7 linked regions of the Homo sapiens genome follow. The protein of the gene in region 6 interacts with the protein of the main gene of each other region in a biochemical or structural test. Each region holds a gene or a part of one and is shown on either strand. Other genes may lie near its edges. The genes, in order: PRR16, KIF17, PTPN18, IQSEC2, NCBP2L, MAGI3 and ARHGAP17.

Region 1 (4,414 bases), on a different chromosome or scaffold from region 6:
GGAAATTGGAAGGCATATTTTTAAAGTAGGTTGAATTAAGGGAAAAAGAATGAGGTAAATGTAAAGAAAAATACAGATAATGGGTTTTTTTTTTAAAAAAAAGATAGCAAATACAAGACACAAAAGAGACATGAAGTCTGAATGTTTGATGGCTAAGCATAAAGAAAGAAAAAGGTAGGTAGCAAAAACAATATTAAGTAATATGGAATAAGATGGAAGAGCAAGAGCAGTAGTTCTCAAAGTAGTCCTTTGGGTTCCTAGTTCTACTATTGCAAAGTAGGAAGAGGACATGTGGCATCATCTAGAAACATTTTCCATTGTCACATTAACATTTTGGTTGCTACTGGCATCTAGTTGTAGATGCTGCCAACCATCCTACAATGCACAGGACAATCCCCCCAACAAAGAATTATCCACTCAATATGTCAATAGTGCAGAGTTTGAGAAACCCTGAGCCAGTGATTAAAGGTAAAAAGATGAAAGTATAGCAGATTTAGTCACCTCCCTGCTCAGAAGTCCCATTTTACTCTAAGGAAGAATCAAAATCCTTAGACATGTCCCCCATATCTATCTGACCTTATCACTGCTACTCTTGCCCTGCTCGTCCACTCCTGCCACCCTGGGCCCTTGTTCTGCTGCAAATGCATGGGAAACTTGTCCACTATAAGGCCCTTGGGCTGCTATTCCCTACTTGGGAAAATGCTCCCCTAGATTTCCTTACTGCTTGCTCCTTCACCTTCAAGCATTTTCCCCAATGCCACCATGCCACTTTCTCAGTGAGGCTTATTCTGAACAATCCTATTTAAAATTGCACTTCCTCCTCATCACTATTCATCCCATTATAATCTTCTATTACTTCATAAGATAAATCACCTTCTAATATTTGATGTAAACTAGTGTTTATTTTACTGAGCTATCTTCTCCCTACCCTCCCCATCCACTATGTAAACTCCATGAAGGAATTTTGTCTGTTTTGTTCCCCACTATATCCCTAGAAACTAGAACAGTGCCTGGTGTACAGTAGGTGTTAAACACTACTTGTTGAATAAATGAATAAAGGGGCTCAGACAAATTCAAATAATAACACTAATGACAGACACACATACAATGCTTGCTTTATGCATAGGAACCATTCTAAACGTTCTACAAAGAACTCATTTAATCTTCATAACCAACCTATACTGCACATAACACTGTCACTATCGCCACACTATGGAGAAAATGAAAACAGAGAGAAATTAAATAATGTGCTCAATATTGCACAGCAGAGCAATTTGAAAAAAAGCAGACTGGCTTCAGAGTTTGTGCTCTCACCCTTCTATACTATGCCACCTTACTGAGCAACACAGACTAAAAATTCTCCTATTCTTTAAAACAAAAGATAACCCCAAATATTTATCAAAAACATTGAGCTATGCAATAAAGAGGCAATCAAATTTATACTTCATTCTATATATAATTGGATAAACATAAATATACCTCTGATATTTGGGCTTTAAAATTACAAAGTTATGTCAATTCATAATAGCCTACAGTGTTATCACTGTCATCAAAAGTAAACAGAAAATAGTTACTTCAAGGGCAGATCACTAAGCTTATTCATATATGCATCTTTTACTTTCTTCAGCACAGTGACTTACACATATCAAGAATTCAATATGTCTTTCATAATTCATGTTAATGTGACATAAGAAAAAAATAAAACAAATAAAAATGCTGATCTGCAATCAGTTTTAAGAAGAGAATATGCTTAATTTACAATGAGTTCTGAAAACTTTTTGTCCATCTATTTACTGATATACTATGGCAAACATCATAAGAAACGACAAAATGAAAGAGTTAACTTTCAGACACACAAGCATTCTACAGCTTTTGCAAAGTCGTGAATTATAAATATACCACCTATTTTCACACTGACATCACATCCTAAGAGAAAGAAACTGTTGATATGCCACTCATTTTTTTCCCCTACATAAAAAACATCAAACCACAGCCATCAGTATTTCTTTTTTTTCTTTTTGTAGGGCCAGGACTTTTAATTCTGAAAATTATGGAGCCAAACCTCAAACAATTAGCTAAAATTTCTAAAAAATAAAATGGCAATCAACCACTTGTTTTGTCTCTTTACCTGAGTCATTCCCACCCACCCAAGATTCCCTGAACATGTGCAGGAACCACGTTTGTGTGAGCTTTTGTTCCAGAAGAAATAATCCCAACTTTTTTTCCTTTTTTCAAAGGGGTTTGTGATATGGGGGGAGGGAGACTATTAAGAACCACTGATGCTAGAAGGCAATTGATTTGACTGATATTGTTTAACCCAGTATTTTTCTCTCATATAAACACACAGTTTGAAATCTTGAGATAAGGTGATATTATGAAAGGGGAAAATGCACACCAATGTATCTGTTAACATTTGTGTGGTACTACAAAAAGAACCTGTCAGAAATCATCAAATTTTCTTTTTCCAGACAAGGATAACATATGTTATCTGTAGTTGAAAATCTATTTATAGTGTCCCAAACATCATGATAACTGTGTCATTGAGCATAAGTATGTAATTTGCCTAACTTCAATTATTCTACAAGTAAACATTTATCTCAAACACCAATCTGAAGCAGCATTTGCAAAGTAGAAAGAGAGAAAACAAAGATGATGAATATAAATTCAGTCCTAACAGTGTTAATATTTCTTGCCTGAAAGTGAGGTCTGGGAGTTTAAATTCTTTGGAATCCTCATGTCTTTCCATTCTAAATAAATAAATAGCTTATCCCATATAAGCAAGACAACATTTGTCCTGAGTTGACAGACTACCTTGTGAGTCTACTTTGATTTGGATATTAGATATGTCTTTATTTTCTCATTTCAGTTAATGCTACTTTCTGGTTCTTGTTTAAAGATGAATTTCTGCTGACTTTGGGTTCCCAGTTCCTGTGGGAAATTTAATTCAGAGTAATTATCCTAATGAACTAACTTTTAATACAATAAAAACATTTCTATTCATAACATACTGGAAAAGAAAACAAACAATTTTAGAATAAGGCCATTTCTTATAACCCTTATATGTGGGAGAGAGGAGGTGGTTTATAATCGATAGCACTAAAGTTAATACAAGAAATCGAATTATAATATATACATATGACATCATTAGCCAGTTCAATAATGTTGTTCCTAGTAAAGAATTCAACAAGATTCTCTAATTCATCAGTCATAGCAGAAAGCAAGAGAACTGTCAAACCTCAAACATCTCAGAAAACTTAAGGATAGTGCCTCTCTTCTAAGGTAATTTGATAGCAACAAAAGAGAATAATATATTCCAAATTATTTGTATTCTTTGAAACAATTATATACAATGCTAAGTATCAACGAGCTTCCATATTAGTTGTTCCTTTATTTTCTCAGCCAGAATATTAAAAATCTATGTAATATTCTTATCAACATTTTTGTTGAATAAGTTAAAGGTAATTAATCACAGCACATCTTTATTTGCAAATTTTAAATTGCAAGGTCTAATTTATTCACTATTAATTTTGTCTCAATACTGTTTTCTGCAACCTACAAAAATAATGACTGTTACCATGAAGATAATAAACTACACAGCAAGCCTTAATGAAATAATGAAATGGTTTATTAGCTTCACTCCCAATTTAAGAAACAGTGTCCATACATACGCTGCTGCTGCAAGCAAAAATTTGTGAAAACTCCCTGGAAGACAGTTTGGCAATATGAATTGAGAATTTTAAAGCTTTTAGATCCTTGACTTCTAAGAAAATGTTAAAAAAAAAATAGGAAACGTGAAAGAGCTTGGCGGTTAATGCTGTTCTTTGACACCAAGCTACCTGGCAATGAAGCTTCACTTCTCCACTTACAAGACAAGTGAGTTGGGCAAATGACTTACTATCTCGGACCTCAGATTTCTTATGTGTAAAATGGGCAATATCAGTAACTTCCTCATCTACCTGTTTTGAGAATTAGATAATTTAATATAAATAAATGCGCTGAGAAGAGTACCTGGCAGAGAGTAAGACCTCTGTTAGATATTCATATTGCCAAAACTGCTCTTTCTAGTGACGTTTAATAACCATGAAAAGCTGGAAATAAATAGAATACCCAATATTAAGGGAAGTATGAAGTAACTTATAGCAAATCTGTGTAATAGTTACGATCTATATCATTCAAGAAAGTAGAAAATGTCATTGCTTATAATTTATAACTTTGTATAACTTCATCTATGTTAAAATATGCATACAAAAAGACTAAAAGAAAATATGACAAAATGTTTAGTATACTTATTTTTATGTGGTACTAAAGATAATTTTTGTTTTCTCCTTTATATTTCTTTAGATTTTTGCAAACTTTCTATAATATTCATGTGCTGCTCCTAACATCAGAAAAAATAAATTTGATTTTTTTAATA
Region 2 (3,500 bases), about 93 Mb from region 6:
GCAAGGATGAGAGAGGGGAGCATGGCAGGAATGTGTCCATCGCTGCCACGGGGAGGGGAGCCCTTGACACTTTGCCTGGACATGGGTGGGAAGAACCCGCTGGAGAGGCCCCCTCAGGCCTCACCAGATCAGGCAGTTCAGGGCTGGGTTCTGTGATGGTAGTTTACAGTGGCTAGGGGGAGGGGATAGAACTCTGCTTCCCCAAACCTCTTGCTGGCCTTAGGTGATGTAATAACCTCTGATTACAACCACGATCGGGCCTGTGTTAAGCACGGGTTAAGAGTGTGTGCTGTGGAGCCCCCGGGTTCAAATCCCATCGCCACTCTTTACTGACTGTGTGTCCTTGGGTTGGTCTTACTTAGGCACATGGAGCCTCAGTTTCCTCATCTGTTGTTACAAGGAATAGGAACGGTGCCTCCTCCTGGACTGCCAGGAGGTTTACATGAGAGCCATCTGCACATCCTCCACGAGGGAGCGTGTCTAAAGCCCGGTGACCTCTGGAGTGTGTTTCAGCAAGCGCATCTGTCACTGCAGCCCCCAAGGCAGCTGGTTCAATAGGCCTGAGACCCATGGCTCAGCTGCAGCAAGTGTGAGCAGCTGCCAGCCTTCGGCCCCTCTAGGCCCGGGTAACTGAGGCCTTTCTAGGGTCCAGGGTAGTGACGAAGGGGAGGAGGGCTCCCTGCTGCTCCAGTGCGGGTTAGCAGAAGGTTTGCAGGGGGCCAGAGTGCCCTAACTCCACAGGCTGGCCTTCTGGGGCTGACATGTGGGAGCAACACCCTCTGTTGCCTCCTGTCTCTGCTTCCCTGTCTGGGGGCTGAGCTATGATTCAGCTGCACTAGGAGAGGGAACGCAGTAGAAAAACTCTAGGTGGGAGGCTGGAGGCTCCTGCATAAAAAACACCAAGTGGCTGGGTGCATGTGGTGGTGCATGCCTGTAGTCCCAGCTACCGGGGGCGCTGAGGTGGAAGGCTCAAGGCCAGGAGTTCGAAGCCAGCTTGGGCAACGCAGCGAGACCTTGTCATATATATATCTATATTATAGATATTATCTATATTATATATATAGATAATATTATCTATATATATATCTATATATATCTATATATATATAATATAGATAATATCTATATATATAATATAGATAATATTATCTATATATAATATAGATAATATTATCTATATATAATATAGATAATATTATCTATATATAAAATTATATTATATCTATATATATTATATATATAAAATTATATTATATCTATATATAATATAGATAATATCTATATATAAATAGATAATATCTATATATATAATATAGATATTATCTATATTATAGATATAGATAATATTATCTATATTATAGATATTATCTATATATAATATAGATAATATTATCTATATTATATATATAATATATCTATATTATCTATAATATTATCTATATTATCTATATTATATATATATTATCTATATATAGATACTATATATAATATAGATATATATATTTTGAGACGGAGTCTCACTGTGTTGCCCAGGCTGGAGTGCAGTGGCACAATCTCAGCTCACTGCAACCTCTACCTCCTGGGTTCAAGTGATTCTCCTGCCTTAGCCTCCCCAGTAGCTGGGACTGTAGGCATGCACCACCACGCCCAGCTAGTTTTTGTATTTTTAGTAGAGATGGGTTTTCACCATGTTGGCCAGGCTGGTTTCGAACTCCTGACCTCAAGTGATCTGCCCACCTTGGCCTCCCAAAGTGTTAGGATTACGGGCAAGAGCCACTGCACCTGCCTAAAAAAGTTTTTTTTAATTAAAAAAAAAAAAAAAAGTCCCGACTCTAGCCTCCCAGTGCCGGCACCCTCAGGACACTTTCCCATATTTCTGAGGGAGCAGCACCAATGCCAACCTCCCCCCTACCAGCCCCACCTGCCCACAATGGGTCTGCACCCACCTCCAGCTTCTGCTTGGTGTCAGCCCCAAGGAGGTCCCGGACATCTTCATTGTAGATCTCCAGGTAGGAGGCCCGGACCAGGAACTTAGTGTTCTCTGCACACTGCAGGGAGTACACAGAAAGAACCTAGACCTCAGAGCTCGAAGTCCACCTGCTGCCAGGTCTGACCCTGGGGCCTGGGCCCTCTGCCACCAGGACATCATGGGAGGAGAAGGGACATCGGGGCAAGAGGAGTCTCCAACCCAACCCGCCCTGCTGGCCTTCCTGGCAAGCTCTCTCCTGTCTCCAGCTTGGTGGGCGCTCAGGCCTCTTTGAGTTGCATAATCTTCATATTGCTGTCTAATGCTCTGTCTACAAGCCTCATGGGAAAGGAAACAGAGGCCTCCTCGTTATTCAGGTTAAAAACAAAAACAAAAACAAACAAAAAACAAACAAAACAAAACAAAAAAAACAGGGCGGGGCGCTGCTCATGCCTGTAATCCCAGCACTTTCGGAGGCCTAGGTGGTTGGATCACCTGAGGTCAGGAGTTCGAGACCAGCCTGACCAACAAGGTGAAACCCCCGTCTCTACTAAAAATACAAAAATTAGCTAGGCCAAGCGCGGTGGCTCACGCCTGCAATCCCAGCACTTTGGGAGGCCAAGGCAGGCACATCACAAGGTCAGGAGATCGAGATCATCCTGGCTAACACGGTGAAACCCTGTCGCTACTAAAAATACAAAAAATTAGCCAGGCATGGTGGTGGGTGCCTGTAGTCCCAGCTACTCAGGAGGCTGAGGCAGGAGAATGGCGTGAACCCAGGAGGCGGAGCTTGCAGTGAGCTGAGATCACGCCACTGCACTCCAGCCTGGACAACAGAGCGAGACTCCGTCTCAAAAAAAAAAAAAATTAGCTGCGCATGGTGGTGGACACCTGTAATCCCAGCTACTCAGGAGGCTGAGGCATGAGAATTGCTCGAACCCGGGAGGCAGAGGTTGCAGTGAGCCAAGATCGCGCCATTGCACTCCAGCCTGGGCGAAAGAGCAAGACTCCGTCTCAAAAACAAAAACAAAAACAAACAAAGAAAAAGTGCGGTGGCTGACACCTGTAATCCCAACACTTTGGGAGGCCGAGGCCAATGAATCACCTGAGACCAGGAGTTCAAGACCAACCTGGCCAACATGGCGAAACTCCATCTCTACTAAAAGTACAAAAATTAGCCAGGTGTGGTGATGGGCGCCTGTAATCCCAGCTACTCGGGAAGCTGAGGCAGGAGAATTGCTTGAATCTGGGAGGCAGAGGTTGCAGTGAGCCAAGGTCATGCCATTGTACTCCAGCCTGGGTGACAGAGCAAGACTCCGTCTCAAAAAAAAAAAAAAAAAAACACCTGAGGCCACAGGGAAGGCCTGGGCCAAGCACTGGCTCTGGGCTGGTCCCTGGCAGCTCTCCAAGGCCCTACATGTTGCTGTGGCCACCATGATGAGTCCTGAGAGTGGCACAGTGGGTTCTGCAGCTGATCAGGGTTGTCCCCATCCGCCATTCCCCGTGCACTGCCACAAATGGTCGCCAGGTAATT
Region 3 (4,414 bases), on a different chromosome or scaffold from region 6:
ACTGGGCTTTTCTGCATCACTCTGGTGAGCTGTGGGAGTTTTCAAGGAAGATTCCCAGGGTGGAAAGGCTTTGGGTTGGGCCTAAAAGGTTGAATGATTTAACCCACAGTCCACTCATACTGCAGGAAACCCTCTGGTGTTAGCCTGCAAATAGTTAGAACTTACTATAGGGATAGCCTTTGCATTTTTATTTTGGCTACAATCAGTTAATCTCTGTCATGTAAATGTGCCTGGTTAGGTTGTTGAAATTCTTACTTCTCTTACCATTTCAAAAGAGCTTGGGGAACTCTCTCAAGTCATACATACAGTTAGTACTTAATAAATGCAATAAAAGTTTCATTTTAGAACAAAAGACATCTCTTTTCATTGCAAAAGGGCTTGTGTTTTTATAATAGTTCCTCTTTTGCTCCTGTGTCAAATGTTTCCTTAATGAAAGCTTTGGGGAAAGTTTGGGCTATATGAATTTTTAAAATGTTTTCTGTATTTGATTTTTTAATCAGGAATGCTTTGCTTTCTATAAATGTCTTCTGGTACCTATGATCTTTGTTCTCCTCCCTCTTCTTACTTGCCCCACCCCCCTTACTCAGATAAAGGAGAAGTGGCTGAATGAGGACATCATGCTCAGGACCCTCAAGGTCACATTCCAGAAGGTACTGTGACAGGGGAGGAGGAGGTAAAGGGGCTCCTGAAAGGGGAGAGGTTTCCTCTCCTGTAAAAATGGGCATCATACTAGTACCCACTTCCTCAGTTATTGTCTGGTAGACATAAATGGAAGATGCCTAGAAGTGGGCCTGGTGTATAGTAGATGGCCAATTAATGCTTTTTTCTTTTTTTTCCTAAGTCTTTTGCTCATCTTTTTCTGTGTTTCAGGAGTCCCGTTCTGTGTACCAGCTACAGTATATGTCCTGGCCAGACCGTGGGGTCCCCAGCAGTCCTGACCACATGCTCGCCATGGTGGAGGAAGCCCGTCGCCTCCAGGGATCTGGCCCTGAACCCCTCTGTGTCCACTGCAGGTTTTGGAAATGGGCTTCAGGAGGGTCTGGTGAGGCAGAGGGGACAGAGCATGGAGGGGAGTACAGGGCATGGGGCTAGTCTTGTAGTCTGAGTGCCTATTTTGAGAACCCTTGCTCACCCTCCATGGACTGTAATTGTGAGCACTTGTTCAGCACAGACTCAGCTGGGGAATAAGCACACAGCTCTTGCTCAACAAAATGTAAGTGATTAAAAAGGTTTTCCTTGTTCAGATATAATCTGAAGATTCTGGGAATCAAGAGGCTCTGCAGGGGATCCATCAGGACCCTCACCCCCATCCCCAAATGCCCCATCTAAAAGGGGTTGTGGTCAGGACCTGACCAGGCACACTCTGATTCTCTTGTCAGTGCGGGTTGTGGGCGAACAGGCGTCCTGTGCACCGTGGATTATGTGAGGCAGCTGCTCCTGACCCAGGTACGATACAGGCATCCTGTGTGTGCAGTGTGCTGCCCATGACCACGTGTCCTGCTCAAGTGCCTTGTCTGTCTGCCCCAGATGATCCCACCTGACTTCAGTCTCTTTGATGTGGTCCTTAAGATGAGGAAGCAGCGGCCTGCGGCCGTGCAGACAGAGGTGAACCCTGGGTCTCCTAATCTTCAGGGACAGTGGCCCACTGCTGTCATTTGCCCCTGCCTTCCCTTCTTGATGGTCCCTCACCCCAACAGGAGCAGTACAGGTTCCTGTACCACACGGTGGCTCAGATGTTCTGCTCCACACTCCAGAATGCCAGCCCCCACTACCAGAACATCAAAGAGGTACAGAGGCTCCTTTCCCACTCTCCTGTCCACCATCAGCACCCTCAGAGACCAGGACCCCGAGCAGGGTCCAGCCCCCGGGACTACTGGGAGCAGGCACTGACTATGACATCCACCTGTGCCCTCCTCCAGGCATCCTTATCAGGCTCTCCCATCTTAAGCTTTCTCCCAGAGCCCCTTGAGAGGCCTGGCCAGCTTCCTCCCTCAGGAGCCTCCCCTCCTGTTTTTCTTCAGAATTGTGCCCCACTCTACGACGATGCCCTCTTCCTCCGGACTCCCCAGGCACTTCTCGCCATACCCCGCCCACCAGGAGGGGTCCTCAGGTACCCGGCTCCATCCCCGGATTCTTCCCTGCCCAATTTCTCAGGCTAACCCCTTCTTCATCCTTGGAACACCAGTCCGTTCCTTGTTCACTTCGCCAAGTGTTCGCTGGCCCTTTCTTCGAATTGAGCTCTGGGAACCCACCCCAAGATGATTCAATTATCCCAAGATGATTCATTTACCCCTTGCCTCTGCCTCTAAGGCTTGCCCTGCCTTCTGAGTTAGGCCTTTCCTGGATCCTCTAATCAAACCTTAATTCAGGTGGCTCACCCCTGTAATCCCAGCACTTCGGGAGGCCAAGGAGGGCGGATCACTTGAGCCCAGCTGGAGACCAGCCTGGTTAACATGGTGAAACCCTGTCTCTACTAAAAATACAAAAATTAGCCAGGCGTGCTGGTGAGAGCCTGTAATCCCAGCTACTCCGGAGGCTGAGGCAGGAGAGTCGCTTGAGCCCGGGAGGTGGAGGTTGCAGTAAGCCGAGATCGCACCACGGCAGTCCAGCCTGGGCGACAGAGCGAGATCCTGTCTCAAAAAAACAACAAAAAAAATTCAGCAAATAATTCTAGACGCCGCCTTCTTGTCAGGCCGCACGTTGGGTGCTGCGGACATGGGATTGAGCCGCCTTCGCAGCGGAGACTTAAGGCCCTTGTCCTTGCGGCCATCCCTTCCTGTCTTCTATGCCACTTCCGCATTCTTTTGTTCAGTAGACGTTGACACAGAAATGACCACCCCTCAAACCAACACTCTGCCCCAAATTACCCTCCAGGCTGACCCCGTTCCTCCTTCATCCCCCTAACTTGCAGGGCGCTAGGGACACAGAAGCGAGGCCTCCAACCCAAGGAGCCCTCCCTCCCATCTAGCGCACCGCCTCGGCGGGAAGGAAGCCCGTGGTTTGCGCGCTGAGCAGCCTCCCCACTCCCGCCCTGCCCAGCGCCGCCGTTTCACTTCCTCCCGGCCCTCCCTGCCTGCAGGAGCATCTCTGTGCCCGGGTCCCCGGGCCACGCCATGGCTGACACCTACGCGGTGGTGCAGAAGCGCGGGGCTCCAGCGGGCGCCGGGAGTGGGACGCAGACGGGGACGGGGACGGGGACGGGGGCGCGCAGCGCGGAGGAGGCGCCGCTCTACAGCAAGGTGACGCCGCGCGCCCAGCGACCCGGGGCGCACGCGGAGGACGCGAGGGGGACGCTGCCTGGCCGCGGTGAGTCGAGGCTTGCTCCTTCTCAGGGCATCATCCTGCTGTGATCCGCAGGGCGGAACCATCCTGCAGTGGTCCGTCAGGCCCTGGCGGCCGCGGGGACCCCAGCCGCTAGCCTGGCCACGCCCCGACGCTGATGTCCAGGCGTCCCTGGCCACGCCCCGGAAGCGCCCCCTGGCGGTCGCAGTCGCGGTCCAGGGGCAGGGTTCCTGGCAATACTTGTCTTGGCCGCGCCCAAAGGCTGGAGGCCACGTCCGGGGTGTGTGCCTTCTCCCGCCCGGCGCCCTCGGCTCTCCCCTTCGGGCCTCCGGGGAAGCGTCCCCGCTAGGGGTGGGGTCTTGGGACTCCCTGGGGCTTCCGGAGCTGACCCGTGGGGGGTCTGCTGCCCTCAGTTCCTGCTGACCAAAGTCCTGCCGGATCTGGCGCCTACGAGGACGTGGCGGGTGGAGCTCAGACCGGTGGGCTAGGTAAGTCAGGTAGAGCCTGGGTTGCTGGGACTTTGCTGCTTTGAGTGAACCCAGGAGTCTGGGGTTGATGGGGCATGGAGCTTAGTCCTGTGGATGTGGCTGCAGTGAACCAGGAGGACCTGGAGGCGGGGGGATGGCCTTCTTCATGTCTGCCAGCTTCCACACACCTCAGCTTCTCCATGAGACCCACGGCACCCTTCTTCTCCCAGGTTTCAACCTGCGCATTGGGAGGCCGAAGGGTCCCCGGGACCCGCCTGCTGAGTGGACCCGGGTGTAAGTCTAACGCCAGTTCCTGCCTGTTGCCTCTTGTGAGCTCGGACTGCTGATGCCCCGGTGCTGCTGAGCGCCGTGCGCAGAATGGAAACAGTGGGCCTGGATCAAAGTTAAAGTTTCTCAGGGTGGGAAATGTGGGGGCTTTGCCCCAATGACTGTAGCATTCAAGGCTTGAGGCTGGAGGAGGTAGCTAGGGTATAGTGGCTGGTGAGGCTGCACAGAGCAGATTCAAGAAAGAAGATCAGGAAGGGGCATGACCCCTGAGTTATGAAGGGGAGAAGGGACAGATGAGCTTCCGGAGACTGCTCTCCTCACCACACAGCACTAGTCCATCCTCAGCACCTGAGCCTCCCTCACTTGGACACTCAGGG
Region 4 (4,414 bases), on a different chromosome or scaffold from region 6:
AGGTGTTCTGCCATGCCATCTGCATGGTCTCAGGCAAGGCCCAGGCCTTCTCTGCCCCTCCTTTTCCTCACAGATGCATTTGGAGGTAGTAACAGACACACAGGGACAGAAAATATGAGGACCAAAGGAGATGACAGACTTACAACCTGGGAAGTGGTAGGAAATATCCCTGTCCACCTCAATAGCCCATAGGGTTGTGTGAAGAGGGGTGAACCTGCGACCCCCCAGGTCAGTCTGGAAATCTTCAGTAATCAAGATGCTTGAAGTGGGCTCGGCACTGTGGCTCACACCTATAGTCCCAGAACTTTGGGAGGCCAGGGCAGTTTGAATCACTTGAGCCCAGGAGTTTTGAGACCAGCTTGGGCAACATGTCGAAACCCTGTCTCCACAAAAAATACAAAAATTAGCCGGGCATGGTGGTGTGCACCTGTAGTCCCAGCTACTTGGGAGGCTGAGTCGGGAGGATCACTTGAGCCCAGGAGGCAGAGGTTGCAGTGTGCTGTGATCGCACCACTGCATTCCAACCTGGGCAACAGAGCCAGACCCTGCCTCAAAAATAAATAAATAAATAATAAAAACAAAATTTAAAAAAGATGCTTGGGCCAGGCACGGTGGCTCATGCCTGTAATCCCAGCACTTTGGGAGGCCGAGGTGGGTGGATCACCTGAGGTCAGGAGTTCAAGACCAGCCTGGCCAACATGGAGAAACCTCGTCTCTACTAAAAATATAAGAAATTAGCTGGGCGCAGTGGCGCATGCCTGTAGTCCCAGCTACTGGGGAGGCCAAGGCAGGAGAATCGCTTGAACCCAGGAGGCGGAGGTTGCAGTGAGCTGAGATCGCTCCATTGCACTCCAGCCTGGGCGACAAGTGAAACTCTGTCTCAAAAAAAAAAAAAAAAAAAGATGCTTGAAGTGATTCTTCAAACTGAGCTCATTACAAGTAGAGATGTTTGTCTTTTAGGGATGGGACTCTTAGGACTTTGCAGGTTGGAAGGGACTTTCAGGGTCCAGCTTCCTAGATGGCCCACTGGATGTATGACTGCAGGGACAGAAAGCCGCCTTCCTCTAAGGCAGCCAGTTGCCTTGTTAGGCAGCTCTGACTGCTAGAATTTGTCTCCCTGTGGGTTTCTTCCAGCCATCTGCACTCAACCCTTGGCATCACAAAGAACAAGTGTTGTACCTCTGCTCCAAGACAGCTCTCCAGGGATTTGAGGACTCTCTTGATCCTGTTCTCCCTGTGGTCTTCTCTCCTTTAGAGCAGGGTTTCTCAGTCTCATCACTGTTGACATTTGGGGCTGGATAATTCTTTGCGGGGACTGTCCTGTGCACTGTAGGATGTTTAGCAGCACCCTGGTCTCTACCTACTAGGTGCTAGTAGCAACCCTTCAACCAAAAATGTCTCCAGATGTTGCTCCGTGTCCTCTGGGGGCAATATCACCCCCAGTTGAGCATTGCTGCTTTAGCCGAAGTATTTCCATGCTCCCTCTGAGCCTTAGTTTCCTCCTCTGTGAAATGGAACTAACCCCTACTTCACAGGATTGTCATGAGGATGAAATGAAATAAGAGGTTATATGTGGAATCTGCCCTACCCCAGGGAGTACCTGGCCCACACAGTCAATGTGTAGACATCCCTCAGGTACTGAAACTGGTGTATGTCCAGCTCTATGCTAGGCACTGGGTATGCCAGGATGAATCAGACTTAGTCCCTGTTCTCAGGGAGCTCACAGCCCAAAGGACCTAAAAAAGTGCTTTGCGTCATTGTGCCATCCTGAAATCAAAACATTTCCTTTTACGAGCCACTTGCAGACCGCCTGAGGTGTTTGCAGCCTGTGTTAGTTGAGTCCAGAGTGCCCAAGTACTCGACAAAGATATTGGGTTGTTGAGAGGAAGACTTATTAACTCTCTACATGGGTTCAGCAGAGATTGCCATTAAGTGCAGGCTCTGGTAAGGCCTGGTGACAGAACCCGACAACCAGACTCCTGCCCTCCAGTCCAGCAGGGGGCGATCACACACTCAGAGGACTAGCATAGTGCCTGACAAGGGAAAGGCACTGAATCACCATTCTGGAGCTCAGAAAAGGGGTTTACAAATCTCTGTGGGATGTTGGAGCAGGCTTCCTGGAGGAAGCAGGATTCAGTTAGTTTCTGGAAATGTGGTAAATGTCTGTGGTGCGTGGTCATTACATCAGGAACTTGCGTTTTCTTCCATGTCTCCCATTCTGTCCCTCAAGCTTCCATTCTCCCCAGCTTGTGGGCATGTGTGTTTGTGTGTGTGTGTCTGTTAATGGGGTGGGAGGGGAGGGTGGTTACCAGAAATAGGTGCCACGTGGAAATCCCCCACCCAAAGCGCTGCCTCTTGTCTTTTTCCCACCCCTGCCAAAGGTCACCAAAATTTTCCAGAAGAAGAAGATCTTGGTGACGTACAGTTTCCGTCAGTCTTTCCCCCTCGTGGAAATGCACATGCAGCTCTTCCAGAATTCATGTGAGTCCCTTCTTGGATCCCAGCTCCTGAGAGTCTATGTCATGGCCCCCATGCTCACCCGTCATCTATACCAGCTCCAGTTTTCGGAGTCCCTTACAACCGGACTAAGGGTCTCCAAAGCACCTACTTGGTCCCAGGATGAGGGGCAGGCCAGGGTGGAGTATGACTTGGGTCTAGCCCCTGGTTAGCTCATGGTCTTGCAGAGAACCACAGTGCATGTGTTCTCTGGTGGGCCAAAGAGACGGTGATCATGCTGTGCTCTGAAGGATGAACCAGGAGGAGCTTTGTTGCGTGGTATTCCTGGCAGCAGAAGCAATGTGAGTTGAGGCAGAGGTGAGAAGGAAAGGGTTTCGAGAGAGCAGTGCATAGTTGTGTGCCTTTACATCCTGCAGTACAGGGAGTAAGAGGGCCACAGCTACCAGGAGTTTGAGGGCTTTGGGGCAAAGGGGAGCTGCTAAACATGCTCAAGCAGAGAAGAGGCATGATCAGAGTTAGACAGTAGAAAAATTATTTCATGGGCTAGGCATGGTGGCTCACACCTGTAATCCCAGCACTTTGGGAGGCCAAGGCAAGAGGATCGCTTGAGCCCAGGAATTCGAAACCAGCCTGGGCAACATAGTGAGACCCCATCTCTACTGAAAATAAAAAAAAATCTGCGCATGTGGTGCGTGCCCATGGTCCCAGCTACCCAGGAGGCTGAGGCAGAAGGATCACTTGAGCCCAGGAGTTCAAGGCTGCAGTGAGCCATGATGGCACCACTGCACTCCAGCCTGGGTGACAGAGAGATGTTGTCTCAGAAAAAAAAGAGCAGAAAAGAAAAATTATTTTATGTATGAGCCACCTTGCACCAGTCCCAACAGAGGTGCCCAGTCTCCCCTTTCTCCACAGATTACCAGTTTGGGATCAAGTTGCTGTCTGCAGTACCTGGTGGGGAGCGAAAAGTCCTCATCATCTTCAATGCCCCCAGCCTCCAGGACCGGCTGCGCTTTACATCCGACCTGCGCGAGTCCATTGCGGAGGTGCAGGAGATGGAGAAATACCGTGTGGAGTGTGAGTAGCCCAGCCATGTCTCCTCCCTGCTCTCCTGAAACAGTACCCTGCAGAAACCAAGAATCCTATCCTCAGAGAATCTCAGAGTTGAGGGTTAGCTTGTCCAACCTTCCCATCCTCATTTCAAGAATTCTTCAGCCTCTGCTTGAATACCTTCAGTGACAAGGGGCTCATTACCTCCCAACCCCATTATTATCCTGAACTCTAATTATGAGCCAACTATTCCTTCTAGTGAAAGGTATCAGGGAGAAGAATCAGAGTATTGGAGGTAGGACTATAGTTTTAGATCCCAGGTATACTACTCATTATCTGGGTGAACTGCAGCAAATTGCCTAACCTGCCAAGCCCCAGTTTCTTCCTATACGAAATTGGGGTAATGAAGTCTCCTTCACAGAGTCATGGAGATGAAATGAGACAAGGTAGCCGAAATGTCCCAACACATCTTAGGCATTCAAAAAATCCGTATTTCCTGTCCCACCCTCTCTCCTCCTCTGCCCACATATCAATTCCTGAGCTGAATCCCAGTGGGCTATCCTCTCAGCCCCCAGGGGCCACACCAAGTCATTTTGATCATATATATATAATGGAAAATAGTGATTACATCTCATTCCTCCCGATGCCCTCCAAGTTTTCTCTTCTCCAGGCTAAGCAGTCACAGTTAAGTAACATGGTGTTAAGGAGAAAGAGGCAGGCAGACAGAGACGAGGCGGCGGACAGCTCCTTGGTGAGGCCTTCACAGCTCCAGGGCCACTCTACTTCTCAGCGAGGCAGGGATAGAAATTTCAGTTCACCAGATCCTTTGAGACCCTGGGGAAATCCTGAGAGAGGGATTAGTAGCCCAAGACGAGGGGAGGCCAGTAGACACGTGTTTCTATGAGCTCCG
Region 5 (4,414 bases), on a different chromosome or scaffold from region 6:
CTACCAAGAAACAAACAAACCAAAAACTAATAAAAATAATTAAGCGTTATCGTCCAGGGAATAGGCGTAGGATAGGAAGAGGTGGGGCAGGAGGATTTTTGTTTTTATTACAAATTCTTCCAGACTTTTCTATGGTTTCAAATAATAGTGCTTGTGTTTCTCTTGATAACTTTTTAAAATTTCCACTTATTTGACTGTATTTTATGCAAGCTCTAAAAAAAATTATAATTTTGGGCTGCAGGAACATGGCCATAGAATCCAACAGAAATCTTCTTAAAAGGGAAGTTGTGCTTTGGTTGACTCTGATCTTACATACCTAATTTGTTCCCGAAGAACACTTCACTTTGGACCACCTAACAGTCAAACTGGTAATCTGAAAAGCATCTTCAAAATTCAGACAAAAACAAATGGATTTTTTTTGTTTCTGCTATTTAACAAATTTTCAGAGAAAAAAATACATCAACAAGTAAGGTAATTTAAACTTGGAATTGGCTATTTGCAGACTTGAGGTTGGTCTATAACACACTTTTCAAGGGGTTAGAGTTAAAACTTTTTCTCTATGGATTGTTCTAGATCTGAGTCTGTCTTCCAAAGCCTCCTCTACCAGAATGAAAATCTTCACGAAACTCATCCCTTACCTGACCCCCAGATTTACCGCGACCATACTGTTGACCCTCTCTAAAACCGACATCCCAATCAGTGCAGATAATCCATTCATCTAGGCAGGTCCCAGTTAGAAACCGCATGGCATTTTCAGCATCAGCTCTGTTATGGCATTCTACAAAGCAAAAACCACATGCTGTTTTCTTTATTTTATCCAGGCCCATAAAGATATTCCTGATATCAGATCTACTAAAGAGTTCATGTATTTTCTCTTCGGTTGTATAAAAGGAAAGATTCCCCATATTCAATGTGGAGCTTTCCTTCAGTAATTTTTCCTGCTGAAATTTACGGCCACTGAACTGATGGTCCCGGTAGCAGCTCAGCTCCAAAGCAGGGTCTTTACATAGAATTTTCAGGTCTTTGGACATGGTGCTGGTTGGGCAGCATGCCGATGGCCGTTTTCGGTCCAGCTTGGCAGCAGTGACACCACCACTGAAAACCTAAGTTGAGTTGAAAAAAAGAGGGAAGTCAAAAGGAGGGAAACAGAAGTATAAACCTGTGAATATTTAACATATTTGTGTTCAGATACAAGAACACTTCAGCTCCTGACCATAAGGATCATGTCAAGGCACACTAAAAATAGACAGCTCCAATCCCCAAAACATGGTCATAAAATCCAATTTGTCAAGTCTTCCTGAAAGGGAAGTTGTGCTGTCTTTGGTTGAGACTTAGATCTTATATGCCTGATCTATTACCAAAGAGCACTTTTAATAACAGCATGTTCTTGGAAAATATGGCATAAAACAGTTAAATGGATCAAATTTGCACAGAGAATGAGCACTAACAATTCTGATTAAGGACTAAGCATCAGATAAATCACATATATAATCAATGTTAAAGCACAAGTACAGTTTGGACATACTCTTTCTTAATTTGCAATTCAAGTCTATAACATGGAATCAATATATTGTATTGTTGGGTTACACAATGGGTCCCTATATACCATCAAATATACAAGTAGCACTTTAGAAATGAAAACTCTCTGGTATCATAAATTTGACCTAAATTAAGATTAGATTTTATTGGCAATAATTCCACTTGTTCAAAAGGTAAATAGTAATTAACCTTTCTAGACAATTTTAATTAATTCCTTTTTCTCTTTTACTAAAATTTACTGCAGCATTCGGAGGCATTAAACACGATTTAGTCGGTTTTAGCTACACTTTTCAATGTTATTATAGGGAGGCATATATAGGGAGGCACTGGGTCTCCCTATTTCTATTCTGTTTCGCAGAGGTTCCCAAATTTTAGCATGATAGAAACACCGCAAAACGAGATTAAAATACAGATTCTTGCAGCCCACTCTTAAGATATTCTGATTCAGTAGGTTTGGAGAGGGACCCAAGAATTAACATTTTAACCTACACCCCTCAATGATCCAGATGCAAATGGTCCAAAGATTACACTTTGAGAAACTCTGCTAAGGAAGTGCATTCCCTTAACAAACATTTAATAAGCACTCTACTTGCCAGACACTATGACAGGTGCTATAAGTACAACAATGAAAAGACACAGTGAAAATACAATTTTCAGAAATCACTGTGTCCCCAGTACCTACATGAACAATGCCTTGTACACCTTAGACACACAATAAATATTTGTTAATGACTGGATGAATGAATGAGCTCATAATTGAGTGATGAAGGCAAACAAGTAAACATGAAAATACAATATGGTGTAATCAATACTATTTTAGAGATATTCATGGAGGAAGGGGAGAAGGGAGTTAACATTTATTGGGGATCTACTTTGTGACAGGCACTGTGCTCACTTGCCACTACAACACCCAAGAGGAGAAGCAGTTACCTCAGCCTGGGGACAACAGAGAAGGCTTCTGGAGAAGGGACTGCATGCACTGATTCTCAAAGGACAAGGAAGGTATGTATATGTGTGTGTTGCAGGGCTGGGGGGTGTAGGAGTTTAGGGAATGAACCAGGCAGAGGGAACATGTGCAAGGGCAGAACACAAAGAAAAAATAAAAGCCCAGAAAACTGAAATGGAAGATTAAATAAAACCAGATGTAAACAACAGTGCTGTGCAATTCAAAGCAATGAAAATGGGAGTCCCTATTTAGATGTCATTTGAAGAGAAGTAGGAAGCCCACTGGCCAAAAATCATCTTCCTGACAGCCTGTCAAGGATGTCTGAAAGTATACCACTGGAAACTCATTACTTTAAGTCATTGACAAATTGCCCCGTTAAAAAACAAATATCCCTCCTAGACTTCATTTCCTTTTTTTTTTTTTTTGATCTGGTTACTAGATAAGCTACCAGAGAATGTGATAGCTATAGTGGATTTCATTTCATCCAGGCATTGGACAAAGTTTGCCATAATTTCCTTGTAGATGAGATGGCAAAATATAAGCTGGATGCTTCAGGCATTTGTTGAGATGAGCCTATAACTAGTTGAACAACTATAGCCAAAGAAGCGAACACATGGTTTGGTGTCAGACTGGAAGGAAGGTTCTAGCAGAGAGCCAAAGGCTCTGTTATTGGCCATGTCTTGTTTGGCTCATTTATAACTTGGCTCACTACAAACAAGAGCTTTTAAAATGGTCAGAGCAGTCCAAAGACAATGGGCTGCCTTGAGCTAGGCACCCAGTAGTGAAGCAGTGGAGATGCCCCTTTGAATCAATGTAGTGTTATGACTCAAGCATGAATTTTGAAGTCAAAAGACCTTGGTTCAAATCTCAACTTCACCATTTACTAGCAATATGACCCTAGGCAGGGCACTTAACAATACTGATTTCAATCTTCTCATCTGTAAACTGGAGAGCAAAATACCTATCTTGCAACAAATACTGTGACAATGTCATATGTAAAAACACCCAGCACAGTGTTTGACACACTGTAGGTGTTCAATAAGCAATAGGTATTGTATCAATATTCTGATCAAGTGATTCAAAATAGGATATACAAATACATATCAAATCTACACATAACACAAAAATAAGAGGGACTTTGAAATGATCTGGGCAGTCTTACATGATGCTGAGCCCAAATTGACAAGATAATTGATGGATAGTACTTAAGAATAAATGTAAGGCCGGGTGCAGTGGCTCACGCCTGCAATCCCAGCACTTTGGGAGGCCGAGGCAGGTGGATTGCTTAATCCCAGGAGTTCAAGACCAGCCTGGGCAACATGGTGAAACCTCATCTTTACAACAGATTACAAATATTAGCATGGCGTGGTGGCATGTGACTATAGTCCCAGCTACTTGGAAGGCTGAGGTAGGAGGATCTAGAGCCCAGGAGATCGAGGCTGAAGTGAGCCATAATTGTGCCATTGCACTCCAGCCTGGGTGACAGAGTGAGACCCTGTCTCAGAAAAAAAAAAAAGTATAAATGTAAAGTATTACTTTCAAGCTCAACACGTGGCAAAAGGACAGATTGATGGATATTGGGAAAGATAACTGGCATGGGAGCTTTGTTTTATAATGTGGGGCATCCTCTACTTTATTCTTCTCTTCACTTGTTTCTCCATTCATTCAATCAACATTTATAGAGCACTATGTTAAATTCTGGGGAAACAATAAAAAGTAAGATGCAGCCCTTTCCCTCAGGTAGCTCACAATCTGGGGAGATGGACAACTTAACATACAAATTGCAATGCAATGTAATTATTCTAATCACAGGAGCACACAGTAGGCCCAGAGGTAGCACAAAGAAGGGAGTACAAAACTACAGAGGAGGATGAGGAGGGGAAAACAACTTTCTAAAGGACCTGATTCCTGAGCTTTTTTAACAAAAAA
Region 6 (4,414 bases):
CTCACGTAGTTCTCGAGCCTTGGCTTTCAGCTCCATCAGCTCCTTTAAGCACTTCTCTGTATTGGTTATTCTAGTTATACATTCGTCTAAATTTTTTTCAAAGTTTTTAACTTCTTTGCCTTTGATTTGAATTTCTTCCTGTAGCTCGGAGTAGTTTGATCGTCTGAAGCCTTCTTCTCTCAACTCGTCAAAGTCATTCTCCATCCAGCTTTGTTCCGTTGCTGGTGAGGAACTGCGTTCCTTTGGAAGAGGAGAGGCGCTCTGCTTTTTAGAGTTTCCAGTTTTTCTGCTCTGTTCTTTCCCCCTCTTTGTGGTTTTATCTTCTTTTGTTCTTTGATGATGGTGATGTACAGATGGGTTTTTGGTGTGGATGTCCTTTCTGTTTGTTAGTTTTCCTTCTAACAGACAGGACCCTCAGCTGCAAGTCTGTTGGAGTTTGCTAGAGGTCCACTCCCTACCCTGTTTGCCCGGGTACCAGCAGCGGTAGCTGCACAGCAGCGGATTTTCGTGAACCGTGAATGCTGCTGTCTGATCGTTCCTCTGGAAGTTTTTTCTCAGAGGAGTACCCGGTCATGTGAGGTGTCAGTCTGCCCCTACTGGGGGGTGCCTCCCAGTTAGGCTGCTCAGGGGTCAGGGGTCAGGGACCCACTTGAGGAGGCAGTCTGCCTGTTCTCAGATCTCCAGCTGCGTGCTAGGAGAACCACTGCTCTCCTCAAAGCTGTCAGACAGGGACATTTAAGTCTGCAGAGGTTACTGCTGTCTTTTTGTTTGTCTGTGCCCCGCCCCCAGAGGTGGAGCCTACAGAGGCAGGCAGGCCTCCTTGAGCTGTGGTGGGCTCCACCCAGTTCGAGCTTCCCGGCTGCTTTGTTTACCTAAGCAAGCCTGGGCAATGGCGGGCGCCCCTCCCCCAGCCTCACTGCCGCCTTGCAGTTTGATCTCAGACTGCTGTGCTAGCAATCAGTGAGACTCCGTGGGCGTAGGACCCTCCGAGCCAGGTGCGGCATATAATCTCCTGGTGCGCCGTTTTTTAAGCCCATCAGAAAAGCGCAGTATTCGGGTGGGAGTGACCCAATTTTCCAGGTGCCGTCTGTCACCCCTTTCTTTGACTAGGAAAGGGAACTCCCTGACCCCTTGCACTTCCCGAGTGAGGCAATGCCTCGCCCTGCTTCAGCTCGCACACGGTGCGCTGCACCCACTATCCTGCACCCACTGTCTGGCACTCCCTAGTGAGATGAACCCGGTACCTCAGATGGAAATGCAGAAATCACCCATCTTCTGCGTCGCTCACGCTGGGAACTGTAGACCGGAGCTGTTCCTATTCGGCCATCTCGGCTCCCACCTGTTTAGTTTTTTTGTTTGTTTGTTCGTTTGTTTGAGACCAAATCTCACTCTTGTCATCCAGGCTGGAGTGCGATGGCAGAATCTCGGCTCATTGCAACCTCCGCCTCCTGCGTTCAAGTGATTCTCCTGCCTCAGCTTCCTAAGTACCTGGGATTACAGGCGCACGCCACCATGCCTGGCTAATTTTTTTTCTTTTTTTGAGATGGAGTTTTACTCTTGTTGCCCAGGCTGGAGTGCAGTGCTGCGACCTCGGCTTACTGCAACCTCTGCCTCCTGGGTTCAAGCAATTCTCCTGCCTCAGCCTCCTGAGTAGCTGGGATTATAGCACATACCACCACACCCAGCTAATTTTTTGTATTTTTAGTGGAGACAGGGTTTCATCATGTTGGCCAGGCTGGTCTTGAACTCCTGACCTCAGGTGATCCACCTGCCTCAGCCTCCCAAAGTGCGGGGATTACAGGCGTGAGCCACCGCGTCTGGCCTAATTTTTTTGTATTTTAGTAGAGATGGGGTTTCGCCATGTTAGCCAGGCTGGTGTCGAATTCCTGACCTCAGGTGTACTGGGATTACAGGCATGAGCCGCTGCGCCTGGCCTGAGCCACCACGCCCAGCCAGTGGCTTCTTAAACTCAAGAAATAAGGTGGTATTTAAAGATAGACTGACCCTGTCAAAAAGTGGACAAAGGATATGAACAGATACTTCTCAAAAAAAGACAATTATGTGGCTAACAAGCATATGAAAAAAAGCTCAACATCGCTGATTATTAAAGAAATGCAAATCAAAATGACAGTGAGATATCATCTTACGCCAGTCAGAATGGTGATTATTAAAAAATCAAGAAACAATAGATGCTGGCAAGGCTGTGGAGAAACAGGAACGCTTTTACACTATTGGTGGGAGTATAAATTAGTTCAATTAATGTGGAAGACAGTGTAGCAATTCCTTAAGGATCTTGAACCAGAAATACCATTTGATCCAGCAATCCCATTACTGGATATATACCCAAAGGAATATAAATCATTCTACTATAAAGACACATGCACACGTATGTTTATTGCAGCACTATTTACAATAGCAAAGACAGGAACCAACCCAAATGCCCATCAATGATAGATTGCATAAGGAAAATGTGGTATATATACACTATGGAATACTATGCAGCCATAAAAAGGAATGAGATCATGTCCTTTGCAGGGACATAGATGAAGCTGGAAGCCATCATCCTCAGTAAACTAACACAGAAACGGAAAACCAAACGCTGCATGTTCTTATAAGTGGGAGTTGAACAATGAGAACACATGGACACAGGGCCGTGAACAACAAACACCAGGGCCAGTCGGGGGTTGGGGGACGAGGAGAGGGAGAGCATTAGGACAAATAACTAATGCATGTGGGGCTTAAAACCTAGATGACGGGTTGATAGGTGTAGCAAACCACCATGGCACACTTATACCTATGTAACAAATCTACATATTCTGCACTTGCATCCTGGAACTTAAAGTAAAATTTAAATATATATATATTTATATATGATATATTTTATATATCATATATATAAATATATATAATATTAAATATATATATGATATATAATATATATACACTATATATGATATATATAATATATATGATATATAATATATATGATATATATAATATATATGATATATTATATATGATATATATAATATATATGAGATATATATTATATATATGATATATAAATATATATGAGATATATATTATATATATGATATATAAATATATATGAGATATATATAAATCTATATATATATCAGGGGTGGAGGAGGATTTCTGGCTATAGGGGCTATAGGAACTTGACAGGATTCTTGCTGAATGCAGGCTGAGGTGATCAGGTAATCACCTGGAGAATGGTGGGGAATGAGGACTTAGATCATATATCAAGAGTGGGTGATTCTGGCTAAACCAACTTAGCAGGATTCCTGCTAAAGCTGGGCTCTGGAGGACATGCCAAGGATGAGGCCTACTGAAAAAAGAGCTCAGAGGAACCTGTCTAGAGTTTGGTTAAGGACAGCGTCTTTTTCAGTGTATGTATATATACATACATACAGATATATAAATAAAATTAATTTATTCAAAAAATATAATACAGTTTGTACAAGTAGTCAGTGGAGTTATTTGCTTCTGTACTAAATACCTACTGCAATGTGCCTAGCTTTGCATGGATACTTAGATATGACTCAGAGGGTATACTAACAATGATAATATAAATTATCAGGGTTTTTTTTTTAATGATTCACTTGAGCTTGAAGTCAAAATTCTTTGCTACTGAAATAAGTAGGATTTTAGACATTTATACATACATTTTAGAGAGGAGTTAGAAAAGGGAGAAGGTCTGTGTTAGAAATCTATCTTTTCAGCAGTTAATAGAGGTTTCCAAAATTCAAATTTAGTTGCTAAATTGTAGTTATTTTTGCCCCTCTAGCAAAAAAATTAACTTATTTGTTGATTTTAATATTTTTAACATGATTATGTTTTTCCAGGCGATGTTATTGTAGACATCAATGGCAACTGTGTCCTCGGTCACACTCATGCAGATGTTGTCCAGATGTTTCAATTGGTACCTGTCAATCAGTATGTAAACCTCACTTTATGTCGTGGTTATCCACTTCCTGATGACAGTGAAGATCCTGTTGTGGACATTGTTGCTGCTACCCCTGTCATCAATGGACAGTCATTAACCAAGGGAGAGACTTGCATGAATCCTCAGGATTTTAAGCCAGGAGCAATGGTTCTGGAGCAGAATGGAAAATCGGGACACACTTTGACTGGTGATGGTCTCAATGGACCATCAGATGCAAGTGAGCAGAGAGTATCCATGGCATCGTCAGGCAGCTCCCAGCCTGAACTAGTGACTATCCCTTTGATTAAGGGCCCTAAAGGGTTTGGGTTTGCAATTGCTGACAGCCCTACTGGACAGAAGGTGAAAATGATACTGGATAGTCAGTGGTGTCAAGGCCTTCAGAAAGGAGATATAATTAAGGAAATATACCATCAAAATGTGCAGAATTTAACACATCTCCAAGTGGTA
Region 7 (3,898 bases), on a different chromosome or scaffold from region 6:
TCGTGTTTTGGTTTATCAATTTGTGGAATTCTAGGTGGTGTCTTGCAGTGAGATATTCTCCTCAGAAGGGAGACCTTTGAGTACTTTCACTGTAAGGTTCCAGGGGAGGGACTTGTAGAGAATTAGTAATGCCTGGAAGGAATGAGTTCGCATGATGCAGTTTGTTTACGATGGGTGGGTAAGTCTATTTGAGAAGACGGCCTGAAACTCACAGGGGCAAGGCTTATGAGGTGGTCTCATGGTGTGAGTGTCCCAAAGAAGAGAAGTAGGATGGTTCTTTTAGTCCACCTGCCTTTTGTTGATTCATGCATTCAACAGACACTTGTTGAGCCTACACTGTGTCCTGTTATCCAGGGTATTAAAGAATCAAAGGTGAATACGGGCATGGTTTCTGCCCTGAGGGAGCTCAGGAGATACGTGGAAGAGGTAGGCAGGCAAAAAATAATTATATACATGAGATAAGTGCTTAAGAGGGATGGCTAATGCACAGAGCAAAACCCAGCTGTCATTGGATTGAGGGAGGTAACAAAAGCTTCCCAGAGGAGAAAATCTGAGCACCTTTCTCTGCCTTCATTTTCAAGCCCTTATTTCAAATATCTCTTGTATTGATTAGGTCTCTTTTGGTTGTAAGAAAACCCAGTTCATAGCAAAGACGGGAATTGATTGGCTCATAAGTGACCAAAAGAGCCTCTAATAAGTAGTGTGGCTGCAGATTTGGCTTCTTCTGGGGGTTCCACTCTTTTTTTTTTTTTTTGAGACGGAGTCTGGCTCTGTCACCCAGGTTGGAGTGTAGTGGCGCGGCTCACTGCAGCCTCCACCTCCTAGGTTCAAGCAATTCTCCCGTCTCAGCCTCCCAAGTAGCTGGGACTACAGGCCTGTACCACCATGCCCGACTGATTTTTGTATTTTCAGTAGAGATGTGGTTTTGCCATGTTGGCCAGGCTGGTCTCAAACTCCTGCCCTCAGATGATCTGCCCACCTTGGCCTCCCAAAGTGCTGGGATTACAGGCATGAGCCACTGCGCCTGGCCTCGGTTCCACTCTTTAGGTAGGCACTGTGTCCACTGGGAGACTTCCACATCTTCCAAGTCTCAGAGGGAAAGAATACTCATCTCGCAGTCACTGTGGCCCGAGTCCCAGGATTGGCTCTGAATGCTTCTGGGTCACATGCCTTTCCCCAGAAATGGACTGGAGTCAGCGCACCCAAACCATATGGACTGAGAGTGGATGGTAATGGGTGGTAATCAGGCAAGAAATAAAGGTCATGGTGTGTCTTTTGTAGCCCTGCTAAAAAGAGAGATGTTTTGTTTCTTGAAAACCCTTAGATGCAGATCATCACCAATGGTGTTTTTGGGGAGATGATGTCTTGAGTAGAGGAAGGAGTACACTGGGATGAAGACCTTGAAGTTACAGAAGTATCAAGGAGAAAAAAAATTTGAGAGACAACTAGGAGAGCATAGTACTGAGGCTCTGATAGGGAGTGTCTCCTTGGGTGTTGATTTCTTCCCTGACTGAAGTTTCCCTTGGAGGTCTGAATGCTTTCACAGATAGTTGTTTTTTGAGAACCCAAGGTTGTAAACCCAAATGCCTAGAGGGCGAGGCCAGTAAAATGAATCAGTGCTTTGGGCCATGTGAAGGCCTCAGGGGACCTGGAGGACTGTGTCCCACCAAAGGGGCTGCTGTGGTAATGTAGGCCCAGTGTGGACCACCTGTGGAGTTTTCCTGAAATCTGCATTTTAACTAGCTGGCGTTTAATCCAAATTAAACTACGGGGACACTATATGCAGCTGAACAAAATATTTCTGTGGATCACCCAACTGCTTGTCTAGAAGGACTCAGAAATTGACAGTCCCTCTTTTTCATTTATTCCCCTGTACCTTACCCTGATGTTTTCAGTTCTTTGGATTTGTTGAAAAACAGCTCATCCTTTCTTTACTAAAATCTTGAAAAGGTCTGATAGTAACAGTCTATAACATTTCTATGGTGGTTTAGTTTACAAAGTGCTGTACTAAACCACCTGGCTTGGATTTCGTCTCCTGACAATGATAACTTCTCTCTGACAAAGATGGAAACCTGGCTGGGTGGGGTGGGGTGGCTCACGCCTGTAATCCTGACACTTTGAGAGCCCGAGGTAGGAGGATCACTTGAACCCAGGAATTTCAGACCAGCCTGAGCAACATGGTGAAACCCGGTCTTTACAAAAAATACAGAAAACTAGCCAGGAGTGGTGGTGTTTGCCTGTCTCAGCTGCTTGGGAGGCTGAGGTGGGAGGATCAACTGAGCCTGGAAAGTCGAGGCTGCAGTGAGCTGAGATCATGCCACTGCACTCCAGTCTGGGTGACAGAGCAAGACCCTGTCTCAAAAAAAAAAAGAAAAAAAAGAGGAAGAAACCTGACTTTCTAAGTTTGCACAGTTACTGAGTAGTGGCTGAGGCATGGCTTGGGTCCAGGGCCTCTTCCTGTGGTTCCCAAGTGCTTTTGAGTACAGGAACTGGGCTGCCTCTTCACCAGGGAAGGATTAGTGTTTATTAATGTTTATTAAACATCTTCTGTGCTTATGAAGCTGCTGGGCTTGGTGCTTTGCATACTTTTATTTCATTGCATTCTCATAGCCACCCTCTGAGGTGATGTTACTTATTTCTGATTTAATGATGAGGAAGCCAGAGATCAAAGAGGTCATCAAGCTCGCAAGAGACAGAGCCGTGGACCCAAACCCAGGTTTCTGATTCTGCAGCAGCTATAAATTCTGATCACAGAGATCTAATGACCTCTAGGAGTCTTCCACTCCTAGGAGGTATGTAGAATGGACCACTCACTAGGTAGTTGGATCCACTACCAGCAATGTGAATTCTCACACTGAGTCAAAATGTGTCTCTACCTACTGATCCCAGAACAGTCCCCTGCTGCCGAATTGAATGAATCTCATCTCTCTTCCCTGAGTCAGCCCTGCCTGTATTTGATGATCACAAACCTTATCCTTACGTTGCCAGCAGTAACATTCTGCATCCCTCACCCACTCCACTGTGTCCTTTTCCTCCCACTGATCTTCACTCTACCTTTCCTTCCCCCCACCCTTTTTTTTTTTTTTTTGACGGAGTCTCGCTCTGCCGCCCAGACTGGAGTGCAGTGGTACAATCTCGACTCACTGCAACCTCCACCTCCTGGGTTCAAGCGATTCTCCTTCCTCAGCCTCCCGAGTAGCTGGGCTTACAGGCATGAGCCACCAAGCCTGGCTAATTTTTGTATTTTTTAGTAGAGATGGAGTTTTGCCATGTTGGCCAGGCTGGTCTTGAACCCCTGACCTCAGGTGATCCACCCACCTTGGCCTCCCAAAGTGCTGGGGTTACAGGCGTGAGCCACCACGCCTGCCCACTCTGCCTTTTCTAGGGGAACTCTGAACAGTATTTCTGAGAAGGGATAGGTAATGTGTGCTTTGCTTCAATCTGAGTGGATTCCATCAACCTCTCCATAGAGCAGGGTGGAAAGAGGTCCTCTTGTCGTTGCAGCAGCTTCTCAATCTCATCTTTTATGGCCTTATTATGTAGTTTACATGTTAAGAAATCCAGAAGTATTTATAGTTGAGTGAAAATCCATTCTTTACTGGGGGGAAGAAATGAACTCTAAAACCATAAAAATGATGAACCAGTAGAAAATTTTCATCTGTAAATTTGAACCATAAAAGGATATGTTCATTTAGCATCATTTTTATATGTGTAAGCGGCATGTTACGCTATTATGGAATTGCCTTTGTAGCAGAGTGGACGAGGCAAAACCTTCCAAGTTTGATTATGGCCTAGGGCGCTGCAGTCAGTACGTGCACCGTGCATTTTTGTCAGACCACAGGATGTTTCACCTTTATCATTCTATTTCAGTTTCTCAAGTGTAGGTAGATGCTGTAGT

Evidence for each region.
Region 1: the proteins of MAGI3 (region 6) and PRR16 interact in a test that uses a peptide from one of them, tested with the Homo sapiens proteins (one large-scale study listed by IntAct).
Region 2: the proteins of MAGI3 (region 6) and KIF17 interact in a test that uses a peptide from one of them, tested with the Homo sapiens proteins (one large-scale study listed by IntAct).
Region 3: the proteins of MAGI3 (region 6) and PTPN18 interact in a test that uses a peptide from one of them, tested with the Homo sapiens proteins (one large-scale study listed by IntAct).
Region 4: the proteins of MAGI3 (region 6) and IQSEC2 interact in a test that uses a peptide from one of them, tested with the Homo sapiens proteins (one large-scale study listed by IntAct).
Region 5: the proteins of MAGI3 (region 6) and NCBP2L interact in a test that uses a peptide from one of them, tested with the Homo sapiens proteins (one large-scale study listed by IntAct).
Region 7: the proteins of MAGI3 (region 6) and ARHGAP17 interact in a test that uses a peptide from one of them, tested with the Homo sapiens proteins (one large-scale study listed by IntAct).

Annotation. Positions count from the first base shown.
Region 1 is NC_000005.10:120,470,278-120,474,691, reverse strand, and holds part of PRR16 (protein Largen), read right to left. Parts: intron 1-4,414. UniProt on the Homo sapiens protein: Regulator of cell size that promotes cell size increase independently of mTOR and Hippo signaling pathways. Acts by stimulating the translation of specific mRNAs, including those encoding proteins affecting mitochondrial functions.
Region 2 is NC_000001.11:20,711,508-20,715,007, forward strand, and holds part of KIF17 (kinesin-like protein KIF17), read right to left. Parts: intron 2,049-3,500; coding exon 1,947-2,048; intron 1-1,946. UniProt on the Homo sapiens protein: Dendrite-specific motor protein which, in association with the Apba1-containing complex (LIN-10-LIN-2-LIN-7 complex), transports vesicles containing N-methyl-D-aspartate (NMDA) receptor subunit NR2B along microtubules.
Region 3 is NC_000002.12:130,369,178-130,373,591, forward strand, and holds part of PTPN18 (tyrosine-protein phosphatase non-receptor type 18), read left to right. Parts: coding exon 1-24; intron 25-587; coding exon 588-650; intron 651-870; coding exon 871-1,013; intron 1,014-1,379; coding exon 1,380-1,446; intron 1,447-1,527; coding exon 1,528-1,605; intron 1,606-1,697; coding exon 1,698-1,787; intron 1,788-2,021; coding exon 2,022-2,110; intron 2,111-3,079; coding exon 3,080-3,306; intron 3,307-3,695; coding exon 3,696-3,770; intron 3,771-3,979; coding exon 3,980-4,047; 3' UTR 4,048-4,414. UniProt on the Homo sapiens protein: Differentially dephosphorylate autophosphorylated tyrosine kinases which are known to be overexpressed in tumor tissues.
Region 4 is NC_000023.11:53,237,262-53,241,675, reverse strand, and holds part of IQSEC2 (IQ motif and SEC7 domain-containing protein 2), read left to right. Parts: intron 1-2,381; coding exon 2,382-2,481; intron 2,482-3,369; coding exon 3,370-3,531; intron 3,532-4,159; coding exon of another isoform or gene 4,160-4,179; exon of another isoform or gene 4,180-4,414. UniProt on the Homo sapiens protein: Is a guanine nucleotide exchange factor for the ARF GTP-binding proteins.
Region 5 is NC_000023.11:107,790,838-107,795,251, reverse strand, and holds part of NCBP2L (nuclear cap-binding protein subunit 2-like), read right to left. Parts: intron 1,104-4,414; 5' UTR 1,032-1,103; coding exon 570-1,031; 3' UTR 1-569.
Region 6 is NC_000001.11:113,638,045-113,642,458, forward strand, and holds part of MAGI3 (membrane-associated guanylate kinase, WW and PDZ domain-containing protein 3), read left to right. Parts: intron 1-3,866; coding exon 3,867-4,414.
Region 7 is NC_000016.10:25,008,555-25,012,452, reverse strand, and holds part of ARHGAP17 (rho GTPase-activating protein 17), read left to right. Parts: intron 1-3,898. UniProt on the Homo sapiens protein: Rho GTPase-activating protein involved in the maintenance of tight junction by regulating the activity of CDC42, thereby playing a central role in apical polarity of epithelial cells.